Linked DNA regions of Homo sapiens: region 1 is linked to region 2. The links come from fine-mapping of genetic effects on gene expression. A gene starts in region 2. The other region holds a variant in brackets. All regions are shown on one strand. Distances are between the middles of the regions.

Region 1 (8,867 bases), 68 kb before region 2:
CGTTGGTTTCAAAGAACATCTTTATTTCTGCCTTCATTTCGTTGTGTACCCAGCAGTCATTCAGGAGCAGGTTGTTCAGTTTCCATGTAGTTGAGCGGTTTTGAGTTAGTTTCTTAATGCTGAGTTCTAGTTTGATTGCACTGTGGTCTGAGAGACAGTTTGTTATCATTTCTGTTCTTTTACATTTGCTGAGGAGTGCTTTACTTCCAAGTATGTGGTCAATTTTGGAATAGGTGCGGTGTGGTGCTGCAAAGAATTATATTCTGTTGATTTGGGGTGGAGAGTTCTGTAGATGTCTATTAGGTCCGCTTGGTGCAGAGCTGAGTTCAATTCCTGGATATCCTTGTTAACTTTCTGTTTCGTTGATCTGTCTAATGTTGACAGTGGGTTGTTAAAGTCTCCCATTATTATTGTGTGGGAGTCTAAGTCTCTTTGTAGGTCTCTAAGGACTTGCTTTATGAATCTGGGTGCTCCTGTATTGGGTGCATATATATTTAGGATAGTTAGCTCTTCTTGTTGAATTGATCCCTTTACCATTATGTAGTGGTCTTCTTTGTCTCTTTTGATCTTTGTTGGTTTAAAGTCTGTTTTATCAGAGACTAGGATTGCAACCCCTGCCTTTTTTTGTTTTCCATTTGCTTGGTAGATCTTCCTCCATCCCTTTATTTTGAGCCTATGTGTGTCTCTGCACGTGAGATGGGTTTCCTGAATACAGCACACTGATGGGTCTTGACTCTTTATCCAATTTGCCAGTCTGTGTCTTTTAATTGGAGCATTTAGCCCATTTACATTATTGTTATGTGTGAATTTGATCCTGTCATTATGATGTTAGCTGGTTATTTTGCTCATTAGTTGATGCAGTTTCTTCCTAGCCTCAGTGGTCTTTACAGTTTGGCATGTTTTTGCAGTGGCTGGTACCAGTTGTTCCTTTCCATGTTTAGTGCTTCGTTCAGGAGCTCTTTTAGGGCAGGCCTGGTGGTGAGAAAATCTCTCAGCATTTGCTTGTCTGTAAAGTATTTCATTTCTCCTTCACTTATGAAGCTTAGTTTGGCTGGATATGAAATTCTGGGTTGAAAATTCTTTCCTTTAAGAATGTTGAATATCGGCCCCCACTCTCTTCTGGCTTGTAGAGTTTCTGCCGAGAGATCAGCTGTTAGTCTGATGGGCTTCCCTTTGTGGGTAACCCGACCTTTCTCTCTGGCTGCCTTTAACATTTTTTCCTTCATTTCAACTTTGGTGAATCTGACAATTATGTGTCTTGGAGTTGCTCTTCTCAAGGAGTATCTTTGTGGCATTCTCTGTATTTCCTGAATATGAATGTTGGCCTGCCTTGCTAGGTTGGGGAAGTTCTCCTGGGTAATATCCTGCAGAGTGTTTTCCAACTTGGTTCCATTCTCCCCGTCACTTTCAGGTACACCAATCAGATGTAGATTTGGTCTTTTCACATAGTCCCATATTTCTTGGAGGCTGTGTTCTTTTTATTATTTTTTCTCTAAACTTCTCGCTTCATTTCATTCATTTGATCTTCCATCACTGATACCCTTTCTTCCAGTTGATCGAATTGGCTACTGAGGCTTGTGCATTCGTCACGTAGTTCTCATGCCTTGGTTTTCAGCTCCATCAGGTCCTTTAAGGACTTCTCTGCATTGATTATTCTAGTTAGCCATTCGTCTAATTTTTTTTCAAGGTTTTTAACTTCTTTGCCATGGGTTTGGACTTCCTCCTTTAGCCTGGAGTAGTTTGATCATCTGAAGCCTTCTTCTCTCAACTCGTCAAAGTCATTCTCCGTCCAGCTTTGTTCTGTTGCTGGTGAGGAGCTGTGTTCCTTTGGAGGAGGAGAGGCACTCTGATTTTTAGAGTTTCCAGTTTTTCTGCTCTGTTTTTTCCCCATCTTTGTAGTTTTATCTACCTTTGGTCTTTGATGATGGTGACGTACAGATGGGGTTTTGGTGTGGATGTCCTTTCTGTTTGTTAGTTTTCCTTCTAACAGTCAGGACCCTCAGCTGCAGGTCTGTTGGAGTTTGCCGGAGGTCCACTCCAGACCCTGTTTGCCTGGGTATCAGCAGCAGAGGCTGTAGAACAGCGGATTTTGGTGAACAGCAAATGTTGCTGCCTGATCGTTCCTCTGGAAGTTTTGTCTCAGAGGAGTACCCAGCTGTGTGAGGTGTCAGTCTGCCCCTACTGGGGGATGCCTCCCAGTTAGGCTACTCAGGGGTCAGGGACCCACTTGAGGAGGCAGTCTGTCCATTCTCAGATCTCCAGCTGCATGCTGGGAGAACCACTACTCTCTTCAAAGCTGTCAGACAGGGACATTTAAGTCTGCAGAGGATTCTGCTGCCTTTTGTTTGGCTGTGCCCTGTCCCCAGAGGTGGAGTCTACAGAGGCAGGCAGGCCTCCTTGAGCTGCAGTGGGCTTCACCCAGTTCGAACTTCCTGGCTGCTTTGTTTACCTACTCAAGCCTTGGCAGTGGCGGGCGCCTCTCCACCAGCCTTGCTGCCACCTTGCAGTTTGATCTCAGACTGCTGTGCTAGCAATGAGCGAGGCTCCGTGGGCGTAGGACCCTCTGAGCCATGCGCGGGATATAATCTCCTGGTGTGCCATTTGCTAAGACCATTGGAAAAGCGCAGTATTAGGGTGGGAGTGACCCAATTTTCCAGGTGCCGTCTGTCACCCCTTTCTTTGACTAGGAAAGGGAATTCCCTGACCCCTTGCGCTTCCTGGGTGAGGCGATGCCTCACCCTGCTTTGGCTCATGCTTGGTGCGCTGCACCCACTGTCCTGCACCCACTTTCCAACACTCCCCAGTGAGATGAACCCGGTACCTCAGTTGGAAATGCAGAAATCACCCGTCTTCTGCGTCGCTCATGCTGGGAGCTGTAGACTGGAGCTGTTCCTATTCGGCCATCTTGGCTCCACCTCCTAATTTTTTTTTTTTAATAGAGACAAGGTCTTACTATGTTGTCCAGGCTGGTCTCAAACTCCTGGGCTCAAGTGATCCTCCCATCTTGGCCTCCCAAAGTGCTGGGATTATAGGTATGAGCCACCGCATCTGGCCTCACTTGTTTTTGATGTTCCTGATGGAGGCTTGTGGCTGGGGTGTGGCTCCCTCACTTTCCCGATAATGCTCCACACCCTGACAGCTCTCCAGCTTGGCTGTGGGCTGCCAGATGCTGTGCTAAGTGATTAGGATGGGTGGATGGATGGATGGTTGGATGGATGAATGGCTGGATGGATAGAAGGAAGGAAGGGAGGAAGGTGGGAGGTGGGGATGGATGGATGGAAGGATGGATGGATGGATGGATGGTTGGATGGAGGGAAGGAAGGAAAGAAGGACGGAAGGATCAAGGGCAGGAGGGAGGTGGGAGGCAGGGATGGATGGATGGTTGGATGGAGGGAAGGAAGGAAAGAAGGAAGGAAGGAAGGAAGGATCAAGGGCAGGAGGGAGGTGGGAGGCAGGGATGGATGGACGGTTGGATGGAGGGAAGGAAGGAAAGAAGGAAGGAAGGATCCAGGGTGGGAGGGAGGTGGGAGGCAGGGATGGATGGATGGTTGGATGGAGGGAAGGAAGGAAGGAAGGATCAAGGGAAGGAGGGAGGGTGGGAGGCAGGGAGGGATGGATGGTTGGATGGATGAGTGGGTGATAACCAGCGTGCCCTGTGCTGCCCAGTGCATACTGCTTCCTGATTTGTGTCTCAGAAAGCCTGTGTAGGGGCTGTTTTAGGACTGCTGTCTGACTTGGATGCAGGTGGAGCCAAAGCTTTTAAAATCCTTCCAGCCTGAGGCCCCCCCTTGGTCTTAAGGACTGAAAGTGGTGTGGTTATATGCTCAGTTTCAGGGAGAGCAAAGGCAGGTACCAACAATTATTAAACACCTGCTTTGCACCCTGAAGGGAC[C/G]TTCACCTATTTAATTTTTCCCATTTCACAGATGGGAAGCCTAGAGGCCGTCCCTGGGTTAGTGACACCTGCCACCACATAGAGAAGCCCCTGGTTGGAGGAGGATGCCCTCTGTTGGGATCCCAATGAGGAATGACTAAGGGCATGTGTATGTGCATGTGCCATACCTGAATGTACCTATTTGTGTGCACATGTGCATGTATATGTGTACATAAAGGGGCAGGAGATGGCAGGTAGAGGGGGTGCCCCCGCTCCTGGATGGAGAGCAGGCATGAGAGTTGACCCTGAGCTCCCAACAAATTAGCCGAAAGAAAAGGGAGGCCAGTAGTGGATCCTAGATGGATTAAGGGTGTACTACACATCCAGTTGTCTACACATCTATGCCCTCTTTATTTGCACTGTGATAGGTGAAATGGGTCTGAAGGCTGCTGAGGGAAGCGGCTACTCAGAGCTGCAGGATGACCTACCCAGGGTCACACAACTGAACTGGGACATGAAGAGGACAGAAAACCTAAAGGGAGGGGCCCTTCTCTGGGTCGGTCTCTGATGGGCACTGAGCACACCTCACCTCACTAACTCTTCCCAGCCTCCTGGGAAGGAGGTCTGACCATAGTCACTTTACAGATGAGGAAAACGAGGCTCATAGAGGTGGAGTGAGTTGCCCAAGGTCACACAAGCCATCGATGGCAGGGCTGGAATTTGAGACCTTTTGGGGTTAGCAGATTGGCTCCTATGCCTCACAAGCAAGCCATAGGTTTGGCCACTCTTCCCCCGTGCCCTGCTTCTCCTCCTGTGCTGTGATCCCAGGTCTAGCACCTCTCCCAGCAGTCACCTCCTGGTGGACATCACAGTGAGAGCTATTTGCTTATTCAGGGTGCCTGCCCTGTACTAGCGAGAGATCACTCCCTCAGCTATTGCTGGGATGGTGTCTTTGGGTGGGTACTGGTGCCACCAGCCCCCACTGGGGGTATAGTGGGTGCTGGGGTGCTCTCATCCATGCAGGGGAGCCTGGGTAGACCTCCAGAATGGAGTGACTCCACTTTCTGGGCTGCCGTCATCACCAGTTGGCTCTGGCCCCACAAGAGGCCCTAGTTGTCCATCTTCCTCCACCTCAGGGCGTGGGATGCCTCTAGGATGGCCTGCAGGAGTTGAGGGACCAAGAAGGTGAGGGAGCACTCACAGAGCTCATTCCTCTCGGAAGAGGTGCTGGGAGGTGCGGCGTCTATTCTGGGGCTGGCCAGCTCCAGCTATGCTTCTGGCTTCCGGTCTAAGGGCTGCCCTGGAGATTGGGGACCTGGTGTCGGGCAGAGCTGGCTGAGAATGGTGACTTTTCTGCTCTCAGGAACTGCATCCGAGACCAGGGGCTGCCCCCTGCTGCACCCTGAGGCGGTGACCACCTCACCCGATGAAGGGCCAGGGGCCAGGGCTGGGCCTGGGAGTTGGTTTCCCTTCAGGCTTCTCAGGAAAATGTCCTTGGGAAACCAGGGCATCCAGTGTAAGACAGGGTCACTGAAGCAAGGCAGGACCTCCTCACTGTCCAGGCATGTGCTGCCATGGCACTGGGGGCCCTAGAGGACTGGAGAGCCACTGGGGAGGCTGTTGGGGGCTGTTGAGACCTCAGATGGGCTCAGAGCCATGGGCAGAGATCTCTGGCCAGCAGTGCCCTCTGCCAGGGCCGTCTCGGACCCCACCCCTTCTGAGGGACCTTGCTGTGGTCCCCCGGAACCTGGGCCTGGCTGAACCCCCTCGAGGCAGCTGCAGGGCTTCACCAGCCTTTTCTCTGAGCTGTGCCTGCTGTGGGTCCTAGCGAGTTTCTCTGTGCCCGGCTCAAGCATCCGTGTGCCCGCGGTTCTGAGAACGGCTTCACATGAGACCCTCACCAGGAAGATCTTGAACACCATCTGCTTGACATTCTCTTTGCTGATGGCCTGGACCAGTGAGAACTCAGACTCCAAGGTGGCCGTGTAGCCCAGCCTGCCCAGGATGGCGTCCAGTTTGTGTCTGGAAAGCATAGATCGCACCCAGTAGGTAAAGCTCCCAGTGTACATCTAGAACAGACAAGGGAGCTTGTTAGGAGTGGGACAGGCCTCAGCAGAGTGGCTGAGAGGGGCCAGGCCAGGCAGGACCAAGGGCTGGTGCCGAGGGACACCAGGGGCTCCTGAGAAGCACGTGGATGAGGGCATTTGGCCAAAGGAAAGCCTGGCCCATGATCAGGGGTACACTGAGGCTCAAAGACAAAGCAGGATCTGTCCAAAGACACTCAGAAAGTGGCTGGGTGTGGTGGCTCACACCTGTAATCCCAGCACTTTGGGAGGCCAAGGAGGGCGGATCACCTGAGGTCAGGAGTTCGAGACCAGCCTGGCCAACATGGTGAAACCCCTCTCTACTAAAAATACAAAAAAATTAGCCGGGCATGGTGGCAGGCGCCTGTAATCCCAGCTGTTTGGGAGGCTGAGGCAGGAGAATTGCTCGAACCCAGGAGGTGGAGGTTGCAGTGAGGACAGATTGCACCACTGCTCTCCAGCCTGGGCCACACAGCGAGACTCCATCTCAAAAAAACAAAAAAACGCAAAAAGAGAGTGACTGAGCTGGGGTAAGGCTCTAGGTATCCCAGCTCCCAGCCTAGCAGTCAGGGCCTGGAGCAGGAAGAAATTAAAACTCTGGTAGGGGCCGAGTGTGACTGCTCACATCTGTAAACCCAGCACTTTGGGAGGGCGAGGCAGGAAGATCACTTCAGGTCAGGAGTTTGAGACCAGCCTGGCCAACATGGTGAAACCCCGTCTCTACTAAAAATACAAAAATTAGCCAGGTGTGTTGGTGGACACCTGTAATCCCAGCTACTCAGGGGGCTGAGGCAGGAGAATCGCTTGATCCTGAGAGGCAGAAGTTGCAGTGAGCCAAGATCGCGCCACTGTACTCCAGCCTGGGTGACAGAGCAAGACTCTGTCTCAAGAACAAAACAAAATGAAAAACAACAAAAAAACAAAACCTCTCTGGTAGCTCTCTAAAGCCCAACTCCTCCCGTTGTTTATTATGAGCACCTTGGTTCATCTTTCCTCGGAGAGGCAGTAACAGTCCAGTGCAGGAGTCCCCAATCCCCAGGCCTTGGACCAGTACTGGTCTATGGTCTGTTAGGAACCTGGCCGCACAGCAGGAGGTGAGTGGCGGGCAAACAAGCATTATCACTTGAGCTCCGCCTCCTGTCACGATCAGCAGTGGCATTAGATTCTCATAGGAGTGGAACCCTATTGTGAACTGTGCATGAGAGGGATCTAGGTTGCGTGCTCCTTATGAAAATCTAATGCTTGATGGTCTGAGGTGGAAGAGTTTCATCCTGAAACTAACCCCCGCCCCCATCCCTCCACCCTGTCTGTGGAAAAATTGTCTTCTGTGAAACTGGCCCCTGGTGCCAAAAAGGTTGGGGACCGCTGGTCTCGTGGTTAGGAGCAGTTGTACCACTTGCTAGCTGTTGACCATGGATAAGTTGCATCTGTCTCTTTAGCCCTCAATTTCTTAAACTGAAATGGGACTGAAGTCAATGGATATGATGGGCATGCTGTTTCTCCCAGAGGCAGAGCCCCAACCCCTGGCTGAATCCCCCTTGCTCAGACATGTGGCAGTGCCTACCTTTAGGGACCTGATTTCCTTCCTCCAGGGAAACAGAAGCAGGTTGACAGAGATCAGCTCCAGGAACTCTAGTGCATGCACCAGCTCAGGGCTGACTTTTGGGACAGGGCTGGGATCCCCACAACAGCAGCCACCCAGAGCAAGGGCCACTTCCTCTGGCAGACAGAGCCATGGAGGGGCCCTCCTGCCCAGGAGCCACCTGGCCCTGTGGGTGAGGGCTGCTTGCCTGCAGACATCGAGCCGGCCCTCCCCTGCTCTCTCCTGGTAGTAGCTGATGATGTTGCCCAGGAGGGTCTCACCCAGAGCAGCTTCGCCTGGGCCTGGGGATTGGGACCTGCTCATGGTGGCTTCGGGGGGGCTGGATATGGAGGATAGAGTCCTGTCCCAGGCCAGGCTCAGGCTGGGCACTTGGAGGAATGGATGGGTCCTGCCTCTCCTGCTCCAAAGCCCAATCTGGAAGCAAAGGAGGAAGTTGTGCTAGCAAGAGATAAAGCTATGTGCAGCCAGGCCCTGCCACTGCTTGTCACTCTGAAAAGCTGAGATTGGAGGGTGACCGGGCCCCTCCCAGTGGAGCAGGGCCTAGGTCAGGATTTGTCCTTTCTTTGTCCCCCTGCCCCACAAAAAATGAAGACCAGGCACATCAGCATCTGCATCTTTCCACACTACCATCCCATCCAGATATCCCCAGTAATGCCTCATGCCTTGAGTGCTGCTGGCTGCAGAGGCATACTCTGCTAGTGTGCGGGACAGGCTGGAAGCGCCAGGAAGGTGGCGACCCTCAACCAACCAAGGGCCAGCGGGGTGAGAGTTACTGGATAGAAACCCCAGCTTCCTGCCCCTGGGTGGCCAATTCTTAGGTATGTTTTTGTAAATTGAAAAGTGTCGGAGGCAGATCTCAATCAATTTAGAGGTTTCTTTTTATTTTATTATTTTATTTTATTTTATTTTATTTTATTTTATTTTATTTTATTTTATTTTATTTTATTGAAACAGAGTCTTGTTTTGTTGCCCAGGCTGGAGTGCAGTGACGTGATCTTGGCCCACTGCAATTTCCACCTTCTGGGTTCAAGCGATTCTCCTGCCTCAGCCTCCCAAGTAGTTGGGACTACATGCATGTGCCACTATGCCTGGCTAATTTTTTTTTTTTTTTTTTTTTTTTTTTTTAGTAGAGATGGGATTTCACCATGTTGGCCAGGCTGATCTCAAACTCCTGACCTGAGGTGATCTGCCCACTTTGGCCTCCCAAAGTGCTGAGATTACAGGCATGAGCCACCGCATCTGGCTGAGGACCTGGGTCTTGATTGTCATTTGCTTTCTATGAGACTCTGCTGGGCTCCTGCCTCTCCAG
Region 2 (8,867 bases):
CATGCCGGGGTGTTCTCAAGGAAAAATTTTAAGGCTAATCTAATTGCCTTTGAACATGTCATTTGTTATTGAAAAAAATTTTTTTAATTTACTTGTCATTGAACTCACTGATAAGCTTTATTATAATACTAGAAAAATAATATCCATTGTTTTTAACCTTTATCAAATTATCCTTGGCACTTGAGCAAGTCCTATTTGCCAAATATTTGAGGGAATGGTTTCTGCTATTAACTTAATGTTTTATTTTCAATCAACCTATACACTTGGCAAAAATAATAACAATAATAGACCATATGTTTGTAAAACACTTTATAATTTTGGAAGGCACAATAAGTGCTGGGTACTAGTCTAGGCTCTGAGGATATAGTGAACAAAACAGTCAAAAGTCCTTGTTCTTGCAGTGCTCACATTATATTGACGTGGGCATACAATAGACAAATGAATAAGATATATAGATGTTGGAGGTAATAAGTGCTCTAGAGAAAAATGGAGAGAAGAAGGATAGGTAATGAACAGGGAACTGCTCTTTTAAATCAGTTTGATTACTGTTCAAACAGGAAAACAAAATACGAAGGTGTCTAAAAATTCTATAGCCTGTGGACAATTAACATATTCTTTTTCAGTTCTCAGACATAAAATGATTGAAGATGTACATGAAAGAATCATTCTAATAACTGATTACATATCATCTAAATTACAATGTGGTAATTATCAGTTTTACAAACTCATACAATTAGGATGAGTCATAGTGATGTTTTAACTATTCTATACCTGGCAGAATTAGATAGTCCTTAAACGTTTCAAGCCTCAGTGTTCTCATCAATAAAATGGGAACAAGTATAGTTCCTAAATCAGAGAGCTGGTTATCAGAATTCAAAGAGAAAATGCATACGTTTAGGAAACAGCGTGTGTGCAATGCATGTTCACAATGTTGACACTGCAGGCCACTGGCAGAGGTCCACTGGACATGGCTATGTGCTATCTGTATATGATTTCTTCATCCTCACACTATTCTGGGAGGTGTGTAACATTTATTCCCATTTTCAAGAGGGAACTGAGGCTTTGAAAAATAAGTCACCTTCCCAGAACCACATGCTATAAACCCAGGCGGTCCAGCTCCAAAAAACTGCTCTCAGCCGTGACTCTTGTTTGTGCCTGCTTGCTAATGGACTGCAGAAGCCCTCCTGGCCTCAGTTTCTCCCTTTAGGAGGCTGACAGCAGATGCCCCTCACCCTATCCTCTGAGTACTTCCAGGGCAAGAGTTTCAGACAATGGTCCTCTGAGGGTGTCCGGCTGATTATTCCTAAAGCCTGACAGTAATGCCTGCATCCCCGTCACATTCCCCACTGGCTGTGTTCCAAATCCTGAGCGAAGCAGGAGACTCAAGCCTAATTAGTTCCTGATTAACTCCTTTGGGAAGATGAGGAGTGAGGATTTTGGAAGACACAGCGACGTGACCCCTAGTGGGTGAATGGGGAAGGGGAGGGGGAAGCTACAGAGGAAGAAGAGGAGAGAGGGAGATTCCGTGTAGGAGGCCCCAGGTGGCAGCTCATCTTGCCTGTCTTACCAGGTGTACCCTGGCACCATGTGGACATGTTTCCTCATCTGAGATTCCTCCCCCATCCCTGTTCTGGGCAGCTGGGCCAGAACACCCACACAGCACAGGTGGCCAGGGACCAACATGGGTGTGAACTGGACCACTGCTTTCTTCCCATCACTCCTGCCCGCCCACCCGCTCCTTGCCACCTCCAGGATCCCAGCATCCTCCCCTATCCCCTGGGCCTATGCCCTGCTCTGCTCTGGGTCTAAGGTCCCAGCCACACAGACTGGAGCAAATCCCTTCCTGGGGACACCCTGCTCTGAAGTTTGAACCTCTCAATCACTGGCTCCATTTCCTCCCCGACATCCTTCATTTCTGGTGCCTCATGGCCCAGTTGCCTGGACGAATACATCATAGTCTGCGAAGAATCAAGGCTGGGACCCCTCAGACCTCTAGGCTGTCTCCCTGGTGCTTCTTGCTGCCTGTCTGAACCGTCACCATCGGTGTGTCCAAGCCACCTGACAGCCTGATGGCTCCTCAGGGAAAGCAATCCTCCACCCGGGAGTGGAGGGAGGTGTTAAATTCCCTTGTACGGAGCTCGAGCAATGGGTGGGTGCCCCTCTCTGGGGCAGCGGACATCAGCTAAGGGCAAGGAGGAAAAGGGTGCACCTTACAGTCAGATGCAGCCTTTTCACCCTGGAGAGAGATGGGAGGTAGCAGGGGAGAACTGGGCTGGGCGGTAGAGAGCCTTGGAGGAGGGAGCGTCTGAGAAAGGGTGGGCCCTAAGGAGAAAGTTTTGCTTTGCAATTAAATGTCAACAGCTTGGGGAATTCAAAGGCCTCCTTGGAGGGGGCTGGGAGCACCACTTCAGATTCAGAGGCACTGAATCTCAGCATCTACTGGTGCTGGACACCTCAGGACACCTGTAGCCCACCACAATTGGCCACTGGCTGCGTGCCAGGCACCAGGCTACATACCCTCACCAGCATCATCTCATTTAATCCTCCCAACTCACCTTCCCCATGTTCCAGATGGGGAAACTAAGGCTCAGAGAGGTTTGTGTCTTGCTTAAGGTTGTACAGCCAGGAAGTCAGCCAAGCCCACCTTCTGGTTCCAAATCCCTTAAACATCCCGCTCACAACAGACTCCTGCTTACTTTCAGATGAGGAAACTGAGGCACAGGGTGGTGAAGTCTCTCGTTCCAGCAGAGCAGTTATGTTTGAGGAGTGAGTCCAGAGCGGCATGCTCTCGGCAGGGGCTCATCGGAAATCGTGGCTCAAGAGCAAGGATCCCTGAACCCCTGCCTCTCACACCAGTTACTTGCGCCCTCCCTTTCCCAGCCTGCGCCCCGCCACCCACGCCGGCACCCGCCCGAGATGGACAGGGCAGTCCCTGGTCCTCACCGCTCTCCAGCCTCCAGACCGCAGAGCCCGATAGGGAAGGAGGAAGGGCAGCGAGAGTCAGCCGGGTGTGGGGTGGGCCCTGCCCCTGGGGAGCGGCGGCGGTGCCACTCAGCGCTGCGCAGCCAGCCTGAGCTGCCTGCCGCCTCGCCTCGTACTCAGCCTCGGGTCCCTCTGACAGCGCAAGGGAAAGTCTGTCCCAAAGTGGGAGAAGGTGCGGAGGGCGCGCTCTCTCTCCGACGCTCGGTGCTGAGACAGAGGCACGGAGACAGGGGCATACCCCAGGCGACCTGCTCGTCGAAGGGTCAAACTTCCTAGCTCAAAGGGGTGCGGGTGGGTTCAAACTCCAAACTCCGTGAAGCCCCAGCCCCTTTCCTCTCCCACCCCGACCGAGAGTGCGCCCTAGTTTTCCCTTCTTGGTTGGGTTGTTCAGGGGTCCCCGAAACCGAGGGCAAGCTGCTGGGGAGGCTGTCTTGGGTTCCCCAAATGCGGTTGATGCTCGTCGGGGACTCGAGTCAGGCAGAAAACCTGGATACCTCCCCTTCCCCGAGGCCCGAGGGCGCGATCAGGGTCAGCCTCGGCTCGCGCAGATCCCAGTGGCCAGCCCGGGGTCGAGGGTCCGCGGGAGACCCGGGATCCCGCTCCGTTCCGAGCGCGCTGCGGTTCCGTTCCGGACCGCGCATCCGCCCGCCCCGCGCACCGAGGCTCCGCGCGGCGCGCCCCCGGGTGTGTCGTTCGCCGGTACCACCGCAGAGCGCGGGGGAATGGGGCCGGGACCCCCCGCCCGCCCCTCCCCCGCGCCGCCCAGCCCCACGCCCCTTACTCGGCTTGGCTGCAGCGCTCCGCTCCGTGCGCCGCAGTGCCGGCTCCAGCTTCGGCTCCAGCTCCGGTTCCCGCCCCGGCTCCGGCTCCCAGTCCGGTTCCCGCTCGGAGGCCACTGCGCTCGGGCTCGGGCGTCGCGGGGGGCGCGCCGCTACGCTTCGGCCTGCTGGGCGCGCAGGGGCGGGGCGGGGCGGGCCAGGCGGGGCCAGGCGAGCCGGGCCGACCAGCCGCCCGCGATCCCGGGCCGAGGCAGCGGCGGCGGCGGCTTCCCAGGCCCCGGCCCTGGCCCTGGCCCTGCCCTGCCGCAGCCCCGCCCGGCCGCCCGTCGTCCCCGCGCCGCCGCCCACGCCACCGTCACCGGCCCCGGCCCCCCTCGGCGGCGGCGCGGCTCCCGGGCCTCAGCACCGCGGCGCCGCGGCCCGGGTCACTCCGAGATGCGGGGCGGGGGGCGCGGGTGCGGGGGAGGGCCGAGCCGCGCCCCTTTGCGCACAGCCAGCCCGACACCCACACAGCAGCAGGCGGGGCAGGGCGGCGAGGAGGCCGGGAAATGCGGGAGGCCGACGCTCCAGTCAGACGTGTGAAGAGGACACACAGGCGTGTGTAGGGAATGACACACGGACGCGAGCGGGGAGCCACTGACACGTGCAGAGAAGGGTAGACAAACGAGGTGTCAGGGAAGGACAGCCAGACAGGTTGGACCGAGGCTAGGCTGGGCATTTGAGCAGGGGACCCCTGTCGCGGGCAAAGAGCAAAGTGCGGGATGGAGAGGGGGACCCAGCGTGGCTGGGCCGCTGGCAGGGGCAGGCGAGCCTGGCAGGGCTTCCCGCTCGCGGTTGCTGGCAGGTGAGTTTTGGGATTCCAGCTAGGCCTGGCCCAAACCTTCCTTCGGAGCCACCAGCAGGCCTGTTTCCTTCACCCCGTCACCCTCCCTGTGCCCCCGTTCCCCGCTGCCCAAACGTCAGGGCATAGGGCTCAGCCCTGGCAGGTGGAAGCCGGCCCCGAGGGGATGCCTGGCTCAGGCCGGGGTTCCAGGCTTCCAGGACCTGCTCTGTCCCCACCCTGCTTTGGGGCCTTGGACGAATCCCAGCCCATCTCTCAGGCCTCCCTGTCCTCATTAGGATATTGCTCCCAATGATTGCACCCCTACTGTGTTGGGGTGCTCGCCAGCGTGGAGGAGTTATTTATTTAACCTCCGCCACTTGCCTGGGAGCGCCAGGAGGGCAGCGTCTGGGTAGGGCTGCAGGGGTCTGCACAGAGTGGGCACTCAGTGAATTTGCTGCAGGAATTGATGAAATGTGTTGTTGCTAACACTCTCTGAACCACTACTGTTGATGAGGAAACTGGGGCTTAGGAGGCAAGGGGAGTCAAAAGCTGGGTTCGTTTCAAAACCCAAAGGCTTGTCACTGGCGGGAAAGTGGTTCTCAAAAATAAAGCATGGTGACAAAGGGCTGAACATGTTGATGCTAAACCTTGGGGAAGCAGTGAAGCCATGGGGATGTTGTGGAAGGGAAAGTTGGCCAGGGACTGGCCTTGCAGGGAGGATGGGGCAGAGCAGGCTCCGGTGGAGAAAACAAACCCCAGCCCTGCCAGTCATCACGTCTTGGGCTTCCCTGGGGCCAGGCAGGGGAAGCTGCGTGGTCTAGGGCTTGGGTGCTTGAGGACATCTCCCAGCCTCCTCTGGTAACTGTTCATTCTGGGCTCTGCTCCCTGCACTATTTACCGCCCCCCCCCCGCCCCCACTCCCCGCCCTCCTGCAGGCTGGGGCTGTCACGGGGACATCAGCTCTGAGTAAGGGATGAGGCTAGAATAAAGGGAAACAATTCTCAGAGAACCGAGGAAGGGGACCTGAGAGACCCTTTGTCCAACCTCATGCATTTATTTTATGAATGAATAAATGAAGGATCAGAGAAAGGAGGGGATAGGCTAGGGTCAAAGAGGTAGGATTGGAGGCTCTACAACTCCCAAGCTAGGGCTGTGCCCACGGTATAACCTTGATCTCTCTGAGGACACCTGCTGACCCTTCCAGGATGGATATTCTAGTTGTTGAGTGGTTTTGCCTGTAAGCTGCCCCCTTTGGCAAGACTCTGTGTGTTTGTGTGTGTGTGTGTTGTGGTGGGGGTGGGGGGACCAGGGATAAGTGTGTGTGGCACACTTTGAGTGAGTCCTTGCGGAAGGTCCTAGCCCTAAAGAGTTAATTCCCGTCCACTCCCCTATTTGTGCATCACTGGCCTGGCAAATCTGGCTTGCTCCTCAGACTGGAACCAGGACTGTTTTCCAGTGGTGTTGGGTGTAGTTTCAGGGAGCTGGCTTATGACGGCGTGCCTACCAATCTCTGTGTGTCTATGTATCCATCCACAAATATATATTAGTGTAGGGCACTTGGAAAATACAAAAGGAAAAAGAAGAAAAGAAAATCCAGTCATTGTGAATATTGAGCTTTCCTGTTTTCCTTTCTTTTTACCTGTGTAACTCTACAAGAGTCCTTAAATGGAGTGAGCTTGCTGACTGATATCTCCTCTCCTATGTCACACTTTTAGTGGCTACCTAGCATAGGATCAGATGGTTGTATTGCACATATTTTTTTAACCAGTCCCCTATTTCTGAGCATTTAGTTTGTTTCCATTTTTCATACTTCTAAACAACACTGCAACGGACATCTTCATGGGGAGGCTTGTGCATGCCCATGACTATCCTTTATGTCTCTAGGTATGTCATAGTTTTGAGGCTTTCTTCGTGTAGGGTCAGATTTGCAGAAGGGGCATCTACTGGGTACCAGGGAGGCACAGTGGTGTTTAGTGTTTGCTTGGCCTAGGGATAGGTAGGGATGCTGGAGGGAAGAGTCTGAGGGAAATCAGGAAGTGAGATCTCAGGACAGTGAGATGCCCAAAGAGTCCCCAAGTGCTGGGCTTTGGGGCTTGCCCTAGAGTGTGCTTCATGTCACCCCAGCCGCTCACAGGGAATCCCAAAAAACGTCTTTTCTGTTTGCAAAGAACAGGATCCATGATGTCATTCATCCCAAACAGAGCCCATGGCATGGAGATGTTGGAAGGGTCTCTTGGGCCTGATCAGCTTGTACCTCCCTACCATCCTTCCTTCTTTGAAATGTCTTTGCTTTACCCCCTTACAAATTACCCAGTCTCATATATTCCTTTATAGCAATGTAAGAACGGCTTAACACAGCCAGGCTGCCCCTTCTGTCTTCCTTTAGGAGGGAAACCTCTCTTCTAGGACCCTGGACTAGGTCTCCAGGAGCTGAAGTATAAAAGACAGCCTCTCCTCTCCTATCTCCAGCGGCCTTTCTGGGGAAACTTATTTCTGGGGCTTCTTGAAGATCTGTATTCAAGGTAGAGTTTATTTCAGGGTAAGTGGCTGAGCGCTGAGCAGGGACTGGGTATAGAACTTTCTGCTCCTGCCCCCAGCCCAGTCCTGACATCTCCTTAGAGAGGCCTGACAATGTGTTAGTTATGCTACATGCAGCATTTAATTCCATCCTCCCAACATCCTGAGGAGGTGGGTAATATTTTCTTTATATTTCACATGCAGCAGTGAGGTTTATGGCACTCAAGTAACTTGCTCAAGGACACATAGCTAATTAGGAGCAGAACCCAGATTTCTACCTAAACCTGCCCCAAACAAGTTAGGCCAACCTGGTGCAGGCAGGTGGGTGGTGTTGCCAGTCACCAAGGAACAGAACACTAGAAGGGAATCAAATGTGAGAAAGGAGAATATGAGTTTGATTATACACATGTTCAATTTCAGGAGTCATCGGCAGGCAGCAGAACTCTGAGAGGAGTCCAGGTCACAAAGACAATCTAAGGACTGAACCCTAAGCCTAGGCAGAACTGATTGATCCATCCATCTACCCACCTACCCATCCACTCATCTATCCTCCTATGGGTCCACTTATCCTTTCTCCATCCTCCTATGATCTATCCGTTTATCCACCCATTCACCCATCTGTCCTCCCACTTATCCACCTAGGCCTCCTCCCATCTTTCAATCCTTCCTTCCTTCCTGCCTTCCTTCCTCCCTTCCTCTCATCTAACCACCTCCCCATCCTCCTACACATGCATTTATTCTTCCTCCCATTCACCCACTCCTCATCTATCCATTCAAACTCCCATCACCCATCCACTTACCCCATCTGCATCTATCCACCCATATGTCCCATGCATACTTACTGATGCTCACTACAGGCCAAGAACTCTGCTATGAACTGATGAAAAAAAAAAGGATGTGGAAAACAAGGTCCCTGCCCTCTAGGAGCTGGCAATGTGTTAAAAGAAGCAGATTATAAACAAATGATCCCAGAACAATATATTTTCTGTGCCAGATGTGTGCTCAAAGAAAAAACACTTAACTCAATCTGTGGAGGTCAGAAAAGGCCTCTTTGAGGGTGTGTTTCTTGAGTTGAGCTTAAAGTTCAATCAAGATTTCATCAGATGAATGGGATGCAGTGAGTGAGATGTTCCAGGAGAGGGAATAGCTTATGTGTACAATGATGGAATAGGTGTCAAGAGACCAAGGTGATTCCAGGGACACAGGTAACTCGGAACATTGGGAGCAAAGTTGAGTGTGAATGAATGGTGTGTTATGAGGAAAGACAGGAAAGGCAGGTCGTAAAGGCCTTGAATGATAGGGTGAAGGCCTTGGGAACCATATAAGGGCTTTAAGAGGGGTGGCTTGGTCAGGTTGTTATTTTAGAAAGATCTCTCTGCTGCATGGAGGATGAGTTGGGGTATGTGGGTGCAAGGGGGATCAAATGGTCCAGACTCTGCAGAGTGAGGACTTAGGATTCTCTGGGTCCAGCCTCTTGGGTCAGCCCAGGCCCCCACATTTGGCCTGGACCCAAAACCACTTCCTTTGCCAAGGCCGAAGTCAGGACAGCTGGGCTGAGACTGTGGGCATGAGGAAGTTTCCGGGGCTCTCCATTTTCAGTGACATGCAGTACTCCCAGCAAGGGCTTTAGTCTATGGTTGTCTCTCTTCTGATCTGGGATCTAAAGTCCATTGCCACAGACTTTAATCAATTTCTCACTGGATTCTCTGTCAAGGTCACCACAGAGTGTCTCAGTTCCATGCTCCGCTTTTCTGCCTCTACAATTT

What was found. PIP is the estimated chance that this variant, and not a neighbour inherited with it, causes the effect.
Region 1: its variant is fine-mapped to the expression of BEAN1 in thyroid (GTEx, PIP 0.93).

What each region holds. Positions count from the first base shown.
Region 1 is chr16:66,490,035-66,498,901 of GRCh38, reverse strand. It overlaps a transcript of BEAN1 not described here. Among named protein-coding and RNA genes, the nearest start is that of BEAN1-AS1, 18 kb to the right of the region's middle. The variant C/G (reference allele first, on the strand shown) is at 3,893.
Region 2 is chr16:66,422,328-66,431,194 of GRCh38, reverse strand. It overlaps BEAN1 (brain expressed associated with NEDD4 1), which reads right to left and starts at 3,900. Exons shown (of 5, transcript NM_001178020.3): 1 at 3,764-3,900. RefSeq lists an enhancer at 2,472-3,072.